Regions from separate parts of the Homo sapiens genome. Here regions 1 and 2 are each linked to region 3. Evidence: fine-mapped expression QTL. A gene starts in region 3. Each other region holds a variant in brackets. All regions are shown on one strand. Distances are between the middles of the regions. Region 1 overlaps SLC26A8 (solute carrier family 26 member 8). Region 2 overlaps SRPK1 (SRSF protein kinase 1). Region 3 holds the start of SRPK1 (SRSF protein kinase 1).

Region 1 (2,852 bases), 98 kb before region 3:
TGGACTTCTTCATATATGCTGGATAGTGAGCATTTTCAGTGAAAATTGTTGATTAATACTGTCCACCTCTTGATCATTTTCCTACAACATAACACAACTGAATATAAAGAAAACTAGGCCTCCCAGCAGGACACCTGGGTTCTAGTCCTGGCTCTAATAAGTATCAAACAGCAAAGACTGTTTAAACTTCTGGGTTTTGTTGTCTCCATTTGAAAAATGAAAAGAATACACATAAAATTATACAACTTTGAGAAAGAGTTTTTTACAACTGAAAGATGCTATGCAAGTGTAAAACATTATTATATAGGAATTTTATTTCCTTAAAAATATGCCGAGGATCTGGATTACTGAAAATGCTCTTTTATTTGCTCTCTTTCCACTCATCCAGGAATGGCACAACTAGAGAGGAGCGCCATCTCTGGCTTCAGCTCTAAGTCCAGGCGAAACTCATTCGCATATGATGTTAAGCGTGAAGTATACAATGAGGAGACCTTTCAACAGGAACACAAAAGGAAGGCCTCCTCTTCTGGGAACATGAACATCAACATCACCACCTTCAGACACCACGTCCAGTGCCGGTGCGTGTGTCCAATCTTTCACCTGCTGCCGAGCCGGGCAGGACTGAAACCTAACCTGACTCCTTTGGGGTCCGTTTCTCTTTCTTGTCTGAGTTCCTGTAATCAGAATCATGCAGTTTATTGTGCAATTTTTCTTCAGTCATTTTTGTGGTTTGTCTTGCAGTACCTTTTCGATTGTAAACTTCCTGGGCATAAAGATCTTGGATGTCCCTATGGTACCTAAGGAGGATATTTCATAATTCCATTGTTCAATCAACCATGACTACCAGACTCCCGACCAAAAATAAGATAGCCAGCAAGACGCAATGGCTCACGCCCGTAATCCCAGCACTTCAGGAGGCCAAGGCAGGCAGATCACTTGAGTCCAGGAATTTGAGACCAACCTGGGCAACATGGTGAAACCCCGTCTCTACTAAAAATACAAAAATTAGCTGGGCGTGGTGGCACGTGCTGTAATTCCAGCTGCTCAAGAGGCTGAGGCATGAGAATTGCTTGAACCTGGGAGGCGGAGGTTGTAGTGGGTCGAGATTGTGCCACTACACTCTAGCCTGGGCAACAGAGCAAGTCTCTGTCTCAAAAAAAATAAATAAATAAGATAGCCATGGTGGACTGATTAATGGTAGGGGAATGAGATTCTTCTAGTCTCATATCCAACAGTGCCCACATGGTGGTACTCATGGTCACTAAGGTAGAATCTACCACCACCAC[C/T]TCTGATACCCGCTGTGACTAGCTAGGTCCTACAGTTCAGGGGCTCTTACCCTGTTTTTGTGCTTTGAACCTTCTAGCAGTCTGATAAAGTTAATCAACATCTTTCAGAATAATTTTTTAAATGTTTTTTATTGTGGTGAAATATGTATAACATAAAATTGGCTATTTTGACCATTTTTAAATATACAATTCAGTGGCATGATTGACATTCGCAATGTTGTGAAACCATCACCGCTATTTCCAAAACTTTTTCATCACCTCAAACAGAAATTCTGTTAAGCAATAATTCCCTATTTCCCCACCCCTCAGCCCAAGTAACCTCTCTTCTGCTTTCTGTCTCTATGAATTTGCCTATTCTAGCTATTTCACTTAAGTAGAATCATACAATATGTTTGTCTTTTTGTGTCTGACTTCTTTCACTTAGCATAATGTTTTCAAGATTCATCCATATTGTAGCATGTATTAGAACTTCATTTCATTTTATGGCTGAATAATATTCCATTGTATTTATATACCACATTTTTGTTTATCCATTCGTTAACAGACATTTGAGTTGTTTCTACCGCCATTAGGCTACTGTAAATAATGCTGCCATGAACATTGGCACAGGAGATCTGTTTGAAGTCCTATAACTAGGACTAGAATTGTTGAATCACATCATAAATCTGTGGTAAATTTAACTTTTTAAGGAACTGCCAAACTGTTTTCCACAGTAGCTGCACCACTTTACATTTTCACTGGCAATGTACAATTTTTCCATGTGCTCTCCAACATTTGTTATTTTCCATTTTTTTAAATTATAGCCAACCTATTAGGTATGAAATGATATCTCATCGTGGTTTTTTGTTTTTGCTTTTGTTCTGCATTTTCCTGATGACTAAAGGTGATGAGTATCTTTTGGTGTGTTTATTGGTTAATTGTATATCTTCTTTGGAGAAATGTCTATTCATTTCCTTTGTCCTTTGTAAAATTAGGTTGTTTGTCTTTTTGTTGTTGAGTTATAGGAGTTCTTCATGTATTCTGGATATTAAATTTCTATCAGATAGATGTTTGTAAATCTTATATAATTTTGTAAATATTTTCTCCCATTCTGCAGGTTGTCTTTTCACTCTGTTGATACAGTGTCCTTTGATGTAGAAAAGTTTTTTGGTGTTTTGTTTTGTTTTGTTTTGTTTTGTTGAGACGGAATTTCACTCTTGTTGCCCAGGCTGGAGTGCGATGGCATGATCTCTGCTCACTGCAGCCCCTGCCTCCCAGGTTCGAGCAATTCTCCTGCCTCAGCCTCCTGAGTAGTGGGGACTACAGGCAGGTGCCACCACGCCCAGCTAATTTTTGTATTTTTAATAGAGGTGGGGTTTCACCATGTTGGCCAGGCTGGTTTTGAACTCCTGACCTCAGGTGATCCACCTGCCTCGGCCTCCCAAAGTGCTGGGATTACAGACGTGAGCCACCGCACCTGATGTAGAAGAGTTTTTAATTTTGATGAAATCCAATTTATCTGTATTTTCTTTTGTTGCCTGGACTTTTGGTGCCATATTTAAGAAACTTGTCAAATTCAAGATCATA
Region 2 (2,852 bases), 75 kb after region 3:
TTGAATAGAAGTGGGGAGAGTCTTGTTCTGGATTTTAGAGGAAAAGCTTTCAATTTTTCACCATTGAGTACAATGTTAGCTGTGGCCTTCTTAAATATGGCCTTTATTGTGTTGAGGTACATTCCTTCTATACCTAATTGTGTGAGCATTTTTATCATGAAAGGATGCTGAATTTTGTCACATGCATTTTCTCCATCTAATAAGATGATCATATGGTTTTTGTCTTTTTTTGGCAGTAGCAGGGGCAGTTTGAGACAGATTGCTGTTACTTCTTCGTTATATGTTTGGTAGAATTCAGCAGTGAAGCCATCAGGTCCTGGGCTTTTCTTTGATGGGAGACTTCTTATTACAGATCTAATCTCTTGTTTCTATTTCTTCATGGTTCAATCTTTGTAGGTTATATTGTCAAGGAATTTTTCCATTTTTTTCTGGGTTATCCAATCTGTTGCCATATGATTGTGCATAGTAGTCTCTTATCCTTTGTAGTTCTGTGGTATTCATTATAATGTCTCCTCTTTCATTTCTTCATTTCTGATTTTTTTAGTCTTTTTTTTTTTTTTGGAGACACAGTCTCACTCTGTCATGCAGGACGCAGGTTGGAGTGCAGTAGTACAATCTCGGCTCACCCTCCTGAGTAGCTGGGACCACAGGCATGTGCCACCATGCCTAGCTAATTTTTTTGTATTTTTGGTAGAGACGGGATTCACCATGTTGCCCAGGCTGGTCTCGAACTCCTGAGCATGAGTGATCCACCTGCCTCAGCCTCCCAAAGTGCTGGGATTACAGGCATGAGCCACTGCGCCTGGCCTATATTCAAATTTTTATACAACATATCTTTAGATTTTTTTTTTTTCTTAAGAGATGGGATCTCACTGTATTTCCCAGGCTGGTCTTGAACTCCTGGGCTCAAGCAATCCTCCCGTCTTGGCCTCCCAAAGTGCTGGGACTACAGGTGTAAGCCACCCTACCTGGCCTCTTTAGAAATTTTTTATCTTTCTAAACTGAAACTCTATATACCATTGAAGAAAAACTCCGTGTTTCCCTTTTCCCCTATTCTTTGGCAACCTTTTAAATTTAAAACAGACTTTATTGTTCCAGCCTCCAGCCCTGCTCTGGAATTTTACTTCCCTTTGGTATGGATTGTTGAAGACAGGAAATTTGAATCATCTGTTAATTCCTTTTTTCTAAAATAACATTTCCAGCACTTCAGCCTTTCTTAATGTGGTCAAACCTGGGGTCAAGATAAGGGCCCTTAAGTTAATACATTGAGCACACCTGCATCTCTGCAGAAGGCCAAGCATCAGGACTCTGACTTGTCTTCCTCACTTTGAGACAGCCATTGGCCAGCCCATTGATACAGATGATGGACATGTTACTTTATAGAAACAGCTCTTACCTGAAACTC[C/T]TCATTTTCTGTTTGGTAATCACTCCTTGGCATTCTGACCACACACAACCATATTGCTTATGAAATGCTAGATTGCCCCTCAAGCTGTGTCAGTATTCCTTTCTGCTACCTGGAGTTTGCAATTTACTTCTGGATCTGAATGTAATTAGTCTGTTTAAATTGTCATTGTTTTAACTTTTCCATGCATTTCATGCTATCTTCTAAGCCATTCTTCTCAAAGGCAATAGTCTAGAGAAGGTTAACAAAGGATGGTACACTGGTTTTATTTGGGTTTGTTTCTTAATAGACTTTATTTTTTAGAGCAGTTTTAGGTTCACAGAAAAATTGAACAAAAAGTACAAATAAGTTTTATATGCTCCCCACACACAGAGCCTCCCCAACTGTCGATCTGCTGCTCCAGAGTGATACATTTGTTACAAACAATGAACCTACATTGGCACATCATTATTAACCAAAGTCAGTAGTTTACATTTCATTTCACTCTTTTAGAAGTTTTGACAAATGTATCTATCATTATTATATACAATATCGTTTCACTGCTCTAAAACTCCTCTGTGCTCTGCCTATTCATCCCTCCCGTCCCCCACTCGCTGGCAACCACTGATATTTTTATTGTCTCCATAATGTCAAATAGTTGGAATCATACAGTATGTAGCCTTTTTAGATTAGGTTCTTTCACTTAGTAATATGCATTTAAGGTTCCTCCATATCTTCACGGCTTAATAGCTCATTTCTTTTTAGCACTGAAGAGTATTTCATTTTCTAGCCTCCTGAATAGCTGGGACCACAGGCGTATAGCACTGCCGCGGCTGGCTCTGTGTTTTTTGTTTTTTGTTTTTTTTAACTTTAATTTCAGTATTTTTACTGAACTCTATATATGAGACCATGAGATTTTTTTTTAAAGTACTGGTATCAGGAATGATTGACAAGTTTTGGTGAACAAGAATCATGATTTGTTTCTCTGTTGCTTTGGGACTATAAACCTCGGAACAACTCAGGGTAGAACAAGTATCTGCTCTATCACTGTGGTTCAGTTTCTTAATAAACAACTGAAATGTAAAATAAGCAATGCCAAGCAAGAAGCCATAGCACTGCTGACATTTAGAGATAGTATTTGATTCCTAAACCTATCCTGAAACTTCTGGTTTTGTGGTCTCCCTCTGGACGGTAGTACAGTTTTGAGAAAGGCTGTTCTGTCATGAAACTGCAGAAACTGACACTGGTGAGCCACCAGGACCTAAACTTGGGTCTAAATTGAGAATATGCCCCAACTAAGTCCTGGACTCTACAGTTCTTGAGGTTGTTTGGACTGCTTAGTACCATTGATTTAATCAAAATTGACCTATGACTAGCGCTTATTTTATAACTGTGCTTCCCTATCAATAAGGTCATTTTTTAAAACTGCTGTTGGCCAGGCGTGGTGGCTCACACCTGTGATCCCAGCACT
Region 3 (2,500 bases):
TATGACGTGAAAATTATATGAAATTCAAATTTCAGTGTCCATACATAAATCTTTATAGGAACACAGCCCATATTTTCTATGACTGCTTTTGAGCTCCAATGGCAGAGTTGAGTAGCTGAGAAAGAGATCTTATGGTCCACAAAGCCTAAATATTTACTGTACGGCCCAAAGAAAAACTTTGCTGAGCCTGCTATACAATAAGGGCTTCATGATTAAATAACTGGGTCGTACACCAAGATTCTGAACATATAGGCAGGCCCTCTTAAGTTTAGTGTCTTTGTGTAATGGAAGTAATAACTATTTTGCCTTTAAGTTGCCATAAACATCAAATGAGATAATGCACTTAGAAAATAAAAACAAAAAAAACTTATAAACAAGACAGCTTTATCATGTATTGAAGGTGGTAGAATAAGAAAACATTAAACGTTTTTATTCTCATTTCCCCTTCTTTCCTTTACAGCTTTCACTTAAACTTGAAATTTCAAGAGAAAATTCACTTTTGAAGTTTTTACTTTTCAAGTGATAATAGGGTCACAGGTTCTTTCCTTCCAGTCTTTTTGTGTTGCTCCCACTCCCTTTTCTTTCTCACATGTAATTTTTTTCCATTTTCTTTAAATAGTATCTCAACTGGGCTCACAATAGCTCAGGGAAGGAGAAACTGGGACATGCCTGATTAATCCATTTTACAGGCCAGGAAACTGAGGCAGATCCCAGTTGCCTCCGAAGCTCTGACTCAGCAGCATGCAGAGAGCCCTGCCGCTCTCTGCGCCTTTTCTAAACAAATAGAACAAAACTAACCTTGCCAGGTTTCCAAGCTTGGATCTCTAACACTCCTTCAACGTTCACCCCGGCGTTCCTCCCCGCTGCGCCCCCTCCCTCTCCTTGCCGCCCCCTCCTCGGGAGCAGGTGGTAGGCTCCGCGCCCAACGCGCAAGCGCGCGGCATCGTGGGGCGGGGGTGGGGCGGGACTGAGGGCGGAGTGTGAGCGGGCTCGGTTTTGGGCCGCGGCGGGAGCGGGAGTCGCCGCCACTCGAGTGCGCAGGCGCCTGGCGATTACCGGTCTCACCATGGAGCGGAAAGGTGAGCGGTGGAGCGGCCTCCGCCACGAGGGGCAATGGTCGCCGGGGCGAGGCCCGGGTCAGCGCCGGGAGCTTCGCTTAACTGCCGCGGTTCGGTTCCCGGACGTGCGGCGCCCCTCCACTGAGGTGGCGCCGCCCCACACCCCCTGCCTCTGGGCTGCGGGTCCGCGCCCCTCAGTCCGGGCGTCCTCTGGCGCCGGCCGTAGCCGCCCCTTGTTCCCCGCCAGGCCGGCTCGCGCCTTGGGGCCACTCCAGGGCCCGGCCCTTGGCGGGCGACGCAGACCCCCACCCGCCCGCCCCCTGACCCGGCCTGAGACCCCTCCGGCGCATCCCGCCCGGGCGCTGCTCTGCGCCCCGTGGGCCGCCAGCCCCACGGCCGGCCGCCTCGCCGGAGCCCGCAGCCGCCCCCGAGGCAGGCCCCGCAGCCGGGCCTGGCGCCCCTGCTGGGTCTCCACCCTCACCTTGGTCGCCTCCTTTCCTCCACATTCGCCCTTCATCCATCCCTCTCTCCTGCAGTGCTTGCGCTCCAGGCCCGAAAGAAAAGGACCAAGGCCAAGAAGGACAAAGCCCAAAGGAAGTGAGTCTTGTACCCCAACATCCCATTCTTTGGATTTTCCTCCGGCACCTTCTCTGCTCTGGTTTCACGTCTTGAACGTGCACCGGGTTTGGGCACCCTGTGGCTGCAGCCACATGGCCTCGGGGCAGCTCGGAGGGTCGCTCTCCAGCAACCATGTGGAAGAGAGCTGCTGTTGCTCAACGCCAGGCCTGGGTCTTAGCAGCCCCGGGCCTGCTGGAAAGGGCTGTCGGAGGAGGACCAGAGCCCGCCCGGTACCTTTCCTCCCCAACTCCACAGAGGAGGCACAAACTCCCCTAGCTTGGACCTCCCCACCGGAGCTGGTAGATCATTATCGGTCTGTTTCTGAACTCTGGTCTCTCTTACCTGCTCCCCAACGTCTTAACTTGCCTCCGACGTCTTCACGGTAGGCCTTAAGGAAATTCTTGAATGAATTTTTCCGTGTTTACTTTGGGTTCTACCAACCACACACTCCCTTTCATAGAGGAGGGCATGGGGCTTTTCCCTGGGTTAGTCAACTTCCTGAGCCTGTAAGGCGTATCGGCTTTTTTGCAGTGTGCCGGCAGACCGCTGTGTATACAGTCGGTGTCTGTTAACTGCTTCTCTTCTGTCTAAACCTCAACCAGATGCAGATAATCTTCCGGAGTGGACATCACAATAGTAACGGGAGAGTTCTTTAACAAACATTGATGATTCTGGTTTGGCGTATTAAGCGCCACATGTCCAGTTTTATCAGTAGGATGCATAACAGTAGTTTAGTGCTATCGTGGCAAGTTCAAAAGTTGGTCACAGCCTAGTAGAAACTCAGGTAGCAGGCTTAGCAGCAAGTGAGGCTAAGCCTTAAGAAC

What was found. PIP is the estimated chance that this variant, and not a neighbour inherited with it, causes the effect. A credible set is the group of variants that fine-mapping cannot tell apart.
Region 1: its variant is the best candidate, but not a certain one, in a credible set for the expression of SRPK1 in whole blood (TOPMed, PIP 0.65).
Region 2: its variant is the best candidate, but not a certain one, in a credible set for the expression of SRPK1 in whole blood (TOPMed, PIP 0.65).

Annotation. Positions count from the first base shown.
Region 1 is chr6:36,017,246-36,020,097 of GRCh38, reverse strand. SLC26A8 (solute carrier family 26 member 8) reads left to right here. Exons shown (of 20, transcript NM_052961.4): 2 at 389-578. The coding sequence starts at 391. Among named protein-coding and RNA genes, the nearest start is that of SLC26A8, 6.0 kb to the left of the region's middle. The variant C/T (reference allele first, on the strand shown) is at 1,287.
Region 2 is chr6:35,844,265-35,847,116 of GRCh38, reverse strand. The region is part of intron 13 of SRPK1 (SRSF protein kinase 1); the gene reads left to right. Among named protein-coding and RNA genes, the nearest start is that of LHFPL5, 40 kb to the right of the region's middle. The variant C/T (reference allele first, on the strand shown) is at 1,406.
Region 3 is chr6:35,919,623-35,922,122 of GRCh38, reverse strand. SRPK1 (SRSF protein kinase 1) reads left to right here and starts at 1,025. Exons shown (of 16, transcript NM_003137.5): 1 at 1,025-1,079; 2 at 1,595-1,655. The coding sequence starts at 1,067. RefSeq lists silencers at 683-742, 773-1,362.